Homo sapiens: one gene and its partners. Changing the gene in region 3 together with the main gene of any one other region gives a genetic interaction. Each region holds a gene or a part of one and is shown on either strand. Other genes may lie near its edges. The genes, in order: SRRM3, HAPSTR1 and SRRM2.

Region 1 (3,649 bases), on a different chromosome or scaffold from region 3:
AAAAATTATCTGGGCACGGTGGCATGTGCCTGTAGTGCCAGCTACTCAGGAGGCCGAGGCAGGAGCATTGCTTGAGCCTAGAAGGTGGAAGCTGCAGTGAGCCGTGATTGCGCCACTGCACTCCAGCCTGGACAAGAGAGTGAGACCTAGTCTCTAATAATAATAATAATAATAATAATAATAATAATAATAATAGTAGTAATAGTAATAATAATAAAATTCAGGCCCCACACTCAGATTTGGAATCAGTCGTTTTGGGTGGGTCCTGGGAATCTGCTTCTCATGGACTGTTCTAGAAATACTGGGGCAGGTACCTCTGCACCTAGGGACCATGGCTGCAGCGGTTCTGGGTGTCCAGATTGGGCTGAGCCGCAGAGAGGAGAGGAAAGGCCCCAGGCCATATGACCTATGTCCTGAAAACACACCGCAGGCCCCCTGTTGTCTCCATCTGTCCAAATCAAAACCGCTCTTCAGGGTGACCTTCCTGGAACAGCTCTGGCCATGCACTTACCTACTGGGAACATTCCTGGCGTTCTCTGCTGTCTACGGAAAAAAGGCTAGGCTGCCTCACCTGGCAATAATTCCCCCCCCGCCCCCCAACAGTGAGGCCCCTGTCTCCAACCCGGGCTTTCGCTCCTCCGCCCGGACCCTGGCACTCCAGCCATGCTGTTCCCCAAGCACCTGGTGCTCTTACCTCCTCCTCTCTGCTCCTGCCAAAATCACCCTGCCTCCTTGTGCCTCTGCCTGGCAAACCTGCATTCATTCTACGAGCTCCATCTGTGAGGCCGGCTCAAAAGTTAACCAAAGTCAACCAGGTCAGGGAGTCCTTCCCCACACCGGTGTCCCGGTAGCCCTTGGAATGCTGCTACATAACCCCTAGTCCATCTAAAAAACATTCTTGGCTGGGCGCAGTGGCTCACGCCTGTAATCCCAGCACTTTGGGAGGCTGAGGTGGGCAGATTACAAGGTCAGGAGTTCGAGACCAGCCTACCCAATATGTTGAAACCCTGTCTCTACTAAAAATACACACACACAAAAAAAATTAGCCGGGTGTAGTGGCAGGTGCCTGTGGTCCCAGCTACTCGGGAGGCTGAGGCAGGAGAATCGCTTGAACCTGGGAGGCAGAGGTTGCAGTGAGCGGAGATTGCCCCACTGCACTCCAGCCTGGGCAACAGTGTGAGACTCCATCTCAAAAAAAAAAAATTATCCAGGGCTGCTGGGGCTCAAGGACTGTCCTGCTCCTCCCATTTTTTTAGAGACGGGATCTCACTATGTTGCCCAGGCTGGAGTGCAGGGGCTATTTACAGGTGTGATCATAGTGCACTACCCGCCCCCCCAAGACTCCTGGACTCAAGCAATCCTCATGTCCCAGCCTCCCAAGTATCTAGGACCACAGGTGTGTGCCACCGTGCCCAACTCCTGCTTCTCCTCTCTTTACCTAATGCCTAGCACAGGGCTTGGGGATGACAATGTGTTCATGCAGCTTTTAAGTGGGGAAGAGCTACTGCTGTGTGATGAATGAATGAATGAATCAAGGACGATCTCTGCTTTCTGATGTCTGAGGAGCAGGAGAGAGAAGAAGACAGCATTTGAGAGGCAGGGAAGAGAGAGGTTTCTGGGGAGAATGACATATGTGTCAGATAGGGCCTGACAGAGAGGGAAGACAGGACTTCCCCCAGGAAGGACCCACTGAATGTTCCAGCTTTCCTGCCTCCCCAGAAGCCCCCTCTGGGGCCCTGATGAGAGAAGGGGTGGCTTGGAGGTTCTGCCAGTCTTGAAGCCCACTCCTCTAACCTGGGGTGCTCTGTCTGATACCAAGGGCTGTGCCATCAGCTGGAGATTGGTGTAGGGGGCAGGTTGCCCAGCTCCCAGAGGCATGTCTCTGGTATCCTGTACCCCCTTTCAGTGGTACCATCACCTCCTGCCCACATGAATAGGCAGACAGACACCTCCCTGACCTCTCTGCTCTAGGTCTCTTCCTTTCCCTCTCTGCCTCCTACCCTATTGCAGGCAGAGGGGCCTTCCTGAAGTGCAAACCTGAGCATTTGATGGCATTGCTCCAGAGCTTATAATTGTCATTGCTTTCTGAATAAATTTCCAGCTCTTGACTGGGTGCAGCGGCTCATGCCTGTAATCTCAGCACTTTGAGAGCCCGAGATGGGAGGATTGCTTGAGGCCAGGCATTTGAGACCAGCCTGGGCAACATAGCAAAACCCCATCTCTAAAAAAACATTAAAAAATTAGTTGGGTGTGGTGGCACATGCCTGTCGTCCCAGCCACTTGGAAGGCTGAGGCAAGAGAATATCTTGAGCCCAGGAGTTGGAGGCTGCAGTGAGCTATGATCTCACTATTGCACTCCAGCCTAGCAGATGGTGAGACCCTGTATCAAAAAAAAAAAAAAAAAAAATTCCAACTCTTCAAGGCCAACCACTCCCACTGGGCTGCCTATTATCAGCCCTGCCCTCTGTCCTGTCCTATGACCACATTAGGTAACTATCCCTTGAATCCAGCCAGGAGGTTTCATACCTCTGTGCCATTGCCCATGATGCTCTCTGGAGTGCCAATCCTCTGCCCTCTCTGTCTGGCACCTCCCCTGTCATTCTTTGAGGCCCAACTGAAATGTCACCTCTCCCAGAAGCCTCCTCTGATGCTCCATATCACTTTGGACGACTTAGTTCTAGCAGAACCTCAGTGGATCATCAGTTTTCATGACTGCCTTCCTTTCCACTGGTCCAGAAGCTCCTCAAGGTCAGAGGCAGAGTCTGATTCACCTCTGTGTCCTCGGGCCTCGTGCTGTGCCCAGAAAACAGGAGGCCCTCATTAAATGTCGATTGTATAGTCTAACCCCCTCAAAGGGTGACCTCCACCTAGCAGAAGTGCACTGGATTTTACCCTTCCTGGGGTGCTTTTTTGGAGACAGGATCTTGCTCTGTCACCCAGGCTGGAGTATAGTGGTGCAATCATAGCTCGTTGCAGCCTTGACTTTCTGGGCTCAAGTGATCCTCTTGCCTCAGCCTCCTGAGTAGCTGGGTCTACAGGTGCACACCACCATGCTCGGCTAATGTTTTCTTTTTCTTTCTTCCTTCCTTCCTTTCTCCCTCTCTCCCTCCCTCCCTCCCTTCCTCCCTTCCTCCCTTCCTTCCTTTCTTCTTTCTTTTTTCTTTCTTTTTTTTTTCAGGGTCTTCTTGCTCTACACTCACTCAGGCTGGAGTGCAGTGGCGTGATCTCAGCTCACTGCAATTTCCACCTCCCGGATTCAAGTGATTCTCGTGCCTCAGCCTCCTGAGTAGCTGGGATTACAGTCACCCTCCACCAGGCCTGGCTAATTTTTGTATTTTTAGTGGAGATGGGGTTTCTCCATGATGGCCAGGCTGGTCTCGAACTCCTGATTTCAAGTGATCTGCCCACCTCAGCCTCCCAAACTGCTGGGATTACAGGCGTGAGCCACCGTGCCTGGCTTAATTTTTTCTTTTTCTTTCTTTCTTCTTCTTCTTCTTTTTTTTTTTGTAGAGATAGGGTCTTATTATGTTGCCCAGATTGGTCTTCAACTCCTGGGCTCAAGTGATCCTCCCACCTCAGCCTCCCAAAGTTCTGGGATTACAGGCATGAGCCACCATACCTGGCTCCGGGGTGCTTTCCAACCCAGGAC
Region 2 (3,649 bases), 6.3 Mb from region 3:
TAGCCTATTGTGTCTGGCTTGTTCCAGTTACTATGATAAGGTTCACCCATCGAGTTCGCATTGCAGGTGTGCATAGTTCAGTGCCTTTTGATTGGCTAGTATTACTCTATGGTGTGGCAGTACCATGGTTTATTCTTTTGCTTTTGTTGGTATTGCTTTGTGCTTGAAGGGGAAGGCAACACATTTTTAGTGTTTTTATGTGCCAGGTTCTTAGCCTAGGCCGTATAAAATGGGATTGTCCTCTGGCTTTGGTCCTGTTGGGTTCTTGTAGAATGTGTCCCTTTAGGACTAACCTAGCAGTTTTCGTTAGTGCTAACTTTTCGTGTAAGAAGATGGGTTCAGCAGTTGAACTCTGAAATAATCCTTAATTTGATTACTTCATTTAAAAATGTTTACAATTTGTTTGTTTTCCTGCTCAGAAAACTTAAGGAGGAACATTAATTTTATTTTTAGAAAACATCACATATGATTCTTGGATTATTGTAAATGCTAGATTGTTAGTCTGAACTAGTTTTATTTTGTACCTTGTTTCTGTACAGTGAAAACACATCCCTTGCCTAATAGAAATGGTAAGTTGTGTCTTGTGGAATTTGATAGTGCAACGTTTTCTTATTTGATTCAAGGAGTGTGTGGATAATACTCTGGATAGCCTCACACTTTTTCTTTTTCAGGGTGTGGTCTTTAGAGAACAGGCATACAGCTGTAGGAATAATTGGTTACCTTAAATAGAACCAATAAAATTAGCAAGGTGGTGTCACAAGTGCATGCAGCAGTAAGTAGTACTAAATTTAAATGATATTGGTTATAGTTCTGATTAAATATTTAAATATAATTTAAGGGGGGAAAAATTTGGTGGATACTTCTAAGTGGGCAGCAGGCAGCATTCCTGTATTTTGTATAATATCTGACAAGGTAAAAATGGCTTATTGTGCAGCCTGGGGACAATTTGGCACTCCTACCAGCTTCTTGATAACTACCAAGAAGTTCATTAGGTGTTTATCTCAATCCTGACCTTCATTAAGAAGGTCAGGATTGAGATTAAAAACCCAGCAGAGGGTCGCTTTTAGTTGTCAGAGGGCTTTTGAAAAGTTGAAAATTGAGTTAATTGGTTTGGTTGGAATGTGGCTAGAAGGATTTGGAAGATAATGTAAATGTAAGTTGAACTTCAGCAAGGACAGAATTCAATAAAATGGAGTGGGTGGTTACCTCTACTGTAAATAGTAGGGTCAGACTTGTCTTCCCCTTTCCAAAAAAGGAAGGAAGCCAAAATACTGACTGCTGGTTTTTGATTTGATAAATGCAAAGAGGATGGTGTTTCTTCAATATTCAGTAGTATCCTTAGATCAGTATATTTTTTGATTCCTGGAACTAAAGAAGGGGAGTAAAAAATCATTTTAATCTGGCTAGGGTTGATGTTTACCCAGTGTCATTGTGAGTTGGAGTCTACTGCCACATTGCCTGAGTTCAGATCTTGGCTCTGTTACTTCTTACCTTTATGGTCCTGGAGACAGTGAAGCCAGGTGTTAATTCACCATTGTGCTCCTTGACTTAATTAACTTAAATAGGGATAACTACCACAGATTCTAGTACAAGCTCTTAGCTTTGTGCCTGGCATAGTGAGTGCTCTGGCATTCATTGTGTTGGTGGTCAAGTTTTAAGTATTTTTTGGATTTTTCTCAATGTGGGCAGTGCTTAAAATGAAGGGAAGTAATAATAGTTTATTTTCTGTCTTTTTAAAAATTTTTTTTGTGTTGAAATAAACTCTGGTGTGTATTTCCTTCTTCATCTTCTTTCCCTAATTGGAGTAAATGTAAGTAGAATTGACAGGTGGGAAAAATAGTCTGATGCCCTTAAGTCCTCACTTTTGATACATCTTGATGCCAAGCCCTCTTTATATGTCTCACTTCAGTGTGGCCATTTTGGACTCGTACACTAAAGGAGAACTGAGCATAACTGTAAATGTGTGGGCCAAGTGGCAGGTGACTTAGAAACAAATGGCCAGAAATCATATTCTACCTGGAGACTGGTGGAGCTGGTTTGTGACTCACTTGGCTGCAAAAAATTATTACTGAGTTTGAGACTTTGTTCAAAATACCTTAGTGTGGATTACAGTGAGAAACCCTAAGCATTAAATTTCTATTTAACTTTTCATGCCTGTAATCCCAGCACTTTGGGAGGCTGAGGCAGGAGGATTGCTTGGGGCAATATAGTGAGATCCCGTGTCTTAAAATTTTTTTTTAATGAAAAAATTGTAGCTTTGTCAGAAGCAGTAGCCTCAGTTATACATAATACTTATTTTTTATAATAGACTGCTTTTTTTGTGTGTAGCTCTTATTTTTTTTCCTTTTTTGGAGACGAAGTCTCGCTCTTGTCCCCCAGGCTGGAGTGCAATGGCGTGATCTCGGCTCACTGCAACCGCCTCCCTGGTTCAAGCGATTCTCCTGCCTCAGCCTCCCCAGTAGCTGGGATTACAGGCGCCTGCCACCACACCAGGCTACTTTTTGTATGTTTAGTAGAGACGGGGTTTCACCATGTTGGCCAGGCTGGTCTTGAACTCCTGACCTCAGGTGATCCGCCCGCCTTGGCCTCCCATAATGGTGGGATTACAGGCGTGAGCCACCGCGCCTGGCTCTTTTTTTTTTTTTTTCTTTTGAGACAGGGTCTCATTCTGTCACCCAGGTGGGAGTGCAGTGGTGCTGTCTCAGCTCACTGTAACCTCCACCTTCCAGGCTCAAGTGATCCTCCCACCTCAGCCACTGAGTAGCTGGGACCACAGGCACCCATCACCATGCCCAGCTAAGTTTTTGTATTTTTGGTAGAGATGAGGTTTTGCCATGTTGCCCAGGCTGGTCTCCTGAGCTCAGGCGATCCACCTGCCTCAGCCTGCCAAAGTGCCGGGATTATAACTGTGAGCCACCATACCCAGCCTGTGTGTAGTTTTTCTGTGAAAGAATATGTTGGTTGCAAGTATGAGAAAACACAAGTTGGGCTGGCTTTAGCTGTATGGCCATGTATTGGCTCCTCTGACTTAAAAGGCCACAGTAGGATTGACTTAATTGAGCAGCCCAGGCTCCCCTGCTCTGTTCTCCCCTGTGTGCACTCGCACACTTTGTTATCAGGCTGGCTTCATTATGTTGGCAGAATGGCTTGTGGCTCACATCTTAGAGCCACTCAGTAAAGCTTAGAAGAGCCTAAAAATGACTTCTGTCATCTCTTGGCCATAACGGGGTCACTTGCTTACCCACAACCATTAATAGGGGTACATAGGGTTATGCACATGAGTTGAGAGCTAAGCCACAACCCCTTGAGCAAATGTGGAGGGAGCTTCTCTCGAAACATGGTTGCTATCTAAACAAAAACCTGGAGTGCTTTTAGGAAGGGGAGGACAAGGATTGGATGCCAGGCAGGCAACAAACAGTGGTTATTAAGATGCTCCCCCAGGGCTGGGGCGGGGGCTCACGCCTGTAATCCTAGCACTTTGGGAGGCTGAGGCGGAAGGATCATTTGAGGTCGGGAGTTTGAGACCAGCCTGACCAACATGGAGAGAAACCGTATCTCTACTAAAAATAAAAGATTAACTGGGCATTGTGGTGCATGCCTGTAATCCCAGCTAACTCGGAAGGCTGAGGCAGAAGAATTGCTTGAACCT
Region 3 (3,649 bases):
ATCTTCCACGTCTAACTAAGCTTCTACTGCGGGATCTTCCTCGTCTTGGTGTCCTAGACCGAGACCTCCCTCTCCTGGCTGGTGTTCTGGAGCGTGAGCGACCACTGCGTCTAGCTGGGGTTCTAGAGCGTGAGCGGCCACGTCTGGCTGGGGTTCTGGAGCGTGAGCGGCCACGTCTAGCTGGGGTTCTAGAGCGTGACCTGCCACTTCTCCTGGCTGGTGATCTACTACGAGACCTGCGTCGTACTGGTGATCGGGTCCTAGATCTGCGCCTAGCAGGTGTTCTAGACCGAGACCTGCCCCTCCGGGCTGGTGTTCTAGACCGAGACCTACGCCTGGTGGGAGTTCTGGATCGTGATCTCCGCCTGGCAGGTGTTCTAGAGCGGGACCTGCCCCGGCGGGCTGGTGTTCTAGAACGAGATCTACCCCTAGTGGCTGGGGATCTAGAGTGGGACCTCCCTCGCCTTGCTGACCTAGACCTGCCTCTTCTCTGGGTATTTCTGCTCCTAGACCAGCCTGGTCGCTGAGGAGACCTAGAGCGGCCACGTCGCTGGGGGCTTCTAGATCTTCCCCACCTCTGTGCAGACCTGGACCTACGCCACTGGGGAGATCGGGATCGAGAATGACCTCTCTTGGTAGGGGTTCGAGACCGAGATCGCCCTCTCTTAGCGGTGGCAGGGCTACGGGACCTCCCCATCCTACGGGAGGGGGTATGAGAATGTGATTTATCCCGTTTTGCTCGGCCATGTGAGCGATTCTTAGATGTGGGAGAAGAAGAAATCTCTCGGTGGGACCCTGGAGCTGGAGCAGGTTTAGGACTTTCTGGGGAAGAGCTGGCATGCCGAGAAACTTTGGTAGGTTGAGGGGATGGTGGGCTGCTCTCTGAGGAAGAAGACTGGGGAAGTTTCTCGGGAGACTTAGGTGGTGAACGGTCCCGAGTTGGAGAGGCCTCAGATGGGGGGTTCACTGGCTCCTGGCTTAAGGGGGTGGTTGCAAGGGGTTGTGGGGAGCCGCCATGTCGCTCAGCAAGGAGCGGAGTGGGAGCAGGTGGTTCTGGGCCTGTGCTGCTCCTTTCCGGAGAGGGGCTAGGTCGAGTTGCAGATTTCTAAGAGTGGAAGAGAGAGCAGGGATAGGGATTCATAAACGCCAAAACTTCACATCACCCCTAAGATCCCAACACCCTTTCCAATGATAACTTTTCTTTTACACACCCTCTGACCACAAGCGATCACTTTCATTCAATAACAAGGAATCATATAAAGCACAGTGGTGAAAACATATGAATATATGGATAGCCAGAATCTTAAAACTAAAAGAAACACAAAATGCAAATAACTAATGCACTACTACATTTAACAAATACCACTACAAAATGTTATAAGAATGGAAAAAAACTATCTTTAAATGGAAAAATAAGCAGTTTCCTAAAGCGAATGGCAACTTCACCTTTGAAGAATAACTCTATTAAACGAAAAGAAACAGCATGAATAAAGATGTGAGAACATGATTTGTGTGAAGAGTAAAAAAGCAGCCCAGGATGGGTAGAGTACAGGAAATGAGAAAAAGACCAGACTATTAAAAGCCTTAAATATAATTCAAAAGCAATAAGGAAGTAGTTAAGTTTCTGAGGTCAACCAACTTGTAATTTGGAAAGGTAACCCTGGATGACATGGAAAATTGATGATAGAGGCCAAGAATTCAGACTGTAATCACTAAAGCAAGAGGAAATGATTAATGCTTAAAATTGGAACAGAAGACTACTGAAGACTATTTCAGTGTTTCATTCAAACTATTGGTGGCAACGCAATGGATTAAAAAGTTTTGGTGAGACATGACCAGCATTTAATGAAAAAAGAGAAGAAACTAGAGGCATCATACGGAGTACACAGATAAGATACAACGTTTGTTCCAGTTCTATCTATGTATAAACAAGACACAATATAAAACCTAACATCCAGTGAGATTTGATTCTAAAGGGTTCACAATTCAGTCTAGTAACAACACTAAAAGTTCTGCAGATGCAGTAAGAGAACTAGGAGAGAAATGCAGGAAAAAAAACTGAATTTATTTATTTTAATAAGTTATTACCTCTCCCTTTCACATCACATGTCTATCCTAAATCTATACATTTGCAATCCAATGAACATCACCAACTCAGGAACATACCTCCTTCTTGTCTTTATCTTTGTCTTCATAAGGGCTGCTAGGCTGTTTCGTAGCAGTCTCCGGGCTACTAGGCCGTTGTGTGCTGGTAGTACCTGGTTCACTGAAAGGCGCATCTCCCTCCCCGCGTCGCCCTGAAGCAGGGGAAGGACTTCGCCCAGCCAAGGCAGTTGTATGAGTTTTAGCTGCAGCACTTCGAGACCTGCAGGAGTTAATTGAGGACGTGGGAGAGGAAGGAAATCAGCTCAAAGGGAGAACAGAAAACCCCCTCCCCAACTCCCATCCACCTTTCCTAACTGGACAACCCTCTTCCAAAAAGCCTTTAGTCGCACAACTCAAATCATTCACTGAAATGCAAGTACAGTCCACTTTGGTTCTTCTTTTCCCAACACAATCCCAAAGAGCGTTCTCCCTCTACCCCTTTACTCACCTCCCCCAAACATCCCCAAACCATCCACCCAGCCCACTCCCTACCCGCTTCATTCACAACTCACCTCTGAGCCCACCTCCTTCAGGAAGCCTTCCCCGATTAAGGAAGCCAGGGTAAGGATTCCTTCCTCCCCCAGACACCACGAACAAACCACCACCCCCCCTATTCTGGCAGTCCATATACATCAGAACGAAACAAAAATAACAAATAAACAAAAACAAAAAAAAAAAGAGAAGGGGAAATGTATATGTCTGTCCATCCTGTTGCTTTAGCCTGTCAGCTCCTAGAGGGCAGGGACCGTGTCTTCCGAATGGTCTGTGCAGCGCCTAGCACACCGTGGGCGCTCAATAAATATTAAATTAATTAACCCATCATTCCCTCTCCCTCCCTTCCTCCTGGACTACCCCTTACCGACTGCGGGAAGTATCGGAGGAGGAAGCAGAGTCAGCAGAAGTTGAACGGTGGGCCCGGCGGCTCTTGGGGGCTGGTGTTGTACTTCGAGACCTGAAGGAAGACCACCACCACAGCTCAGGGTACTGCTGTACCTGCCCTGGATTCTCCTCACGTATCCCTCAACCCTTTACCAGTCAGGGACATAACTCATTCAACTCCCTCCCACTAAGGTGGCGTTCACTTACTTCCTAAGCAAATTCCCCACAAATTCACTCACCGCTTTCGCTTTTTGTCCTTAGATTTACGTTTGCTCTTTGGAGTGGGAGACCTGGGAAATAAGGAAAGGTTGTTAAAAGTAACTTCTTTAAAAAAGGAAATAAAACCAAAAGTGAAATGGAAAGAGGGAGTGTTGACACAAGGAAGATCAAGGAATTGAGCTTCACTCCAAGAAAAAAAAATCACCACTCCACATGCCACTGCGCCCCCTATGAGTTAAAGAGCTCTTACCTATGCTTACGTTTCTTGGACTCAGATTCTGACCTGTTGGAAAAAAGAGAAGAAAAAACATAAGAAACACCTCTGCCTGAATTCAGCAAACCTTCTCCAGTCATTCAAGTATTCCCACCTCATACCTGTGCTTCTTCTTCTTTGAGCTTTTCTTTC

What was found.
Region 1: changes in SRRM2 (region 3) and SRRM3 together harm fitness more than expected from each alone (negative genetic interaction), as found in Homo sapiens cells (one study listed by BioGRID).
Region 2: changes in SRRM2 (region 3) and HAPSTR1 together harm fitness more than expected from each alone (negative genetic interaction), as found in Homo sapiens cells (one large-scale study listed by BioGRID).

The regions. Positions count from the first base shown.
Region 1 is NC_000007.14:76,208,363-76,212,011, reverse strand, and holds part of SRRM3 (serine/arginine repetitive matrix protein 3), read right to left. Parts: intron 1-3,649.
Region 2 is NC_000016.10:9,094,609-9,098,257, forward strand, and holds part of HAPSTR1 (HUWE1-associated protein modifying stress responses 1), read left to right. Parts: intron 1-3,649. UniProt on the Homo sapiens protein: Acts as a central player within a network of stress response pathways promoting cellular adaptability. The E3 ligase HUWE1 assists HAPSTR1 in controlling stress signaling and in turn, HUWE1 feeds back to promote the degradation of HAPSTR1.
Region 3 is NC_000016.10:2,759,017-2,762,665, reverse strand, and holds part of SRRM2 (serine/arginine repetitive matrix protein 2), read right to left. Parts: coding exon 3,619-3,649; intron 3,527-3,618; coding exon 3,494-3,526; intron 3,315-3,493; coding exon 3,264-3,314; intron 3,098-3,263; coding exon 3,005-3,097; intron 2,920-3,004; coding exon of another isoform or gene 2,877-2,919; exon of another isoform or gene 2,544-2,876; intron 2,366-2,543; coding exon 2,167-2,365; intron 1,106-2,166; coding exon 1-1,105. UniProt on the Homo sapiens protein: Required for pre-mRNA splicing as component of the spliceosome. As a component of the minor spliceosome, involved in the splicing of U12-type introns in pre-mRNAs.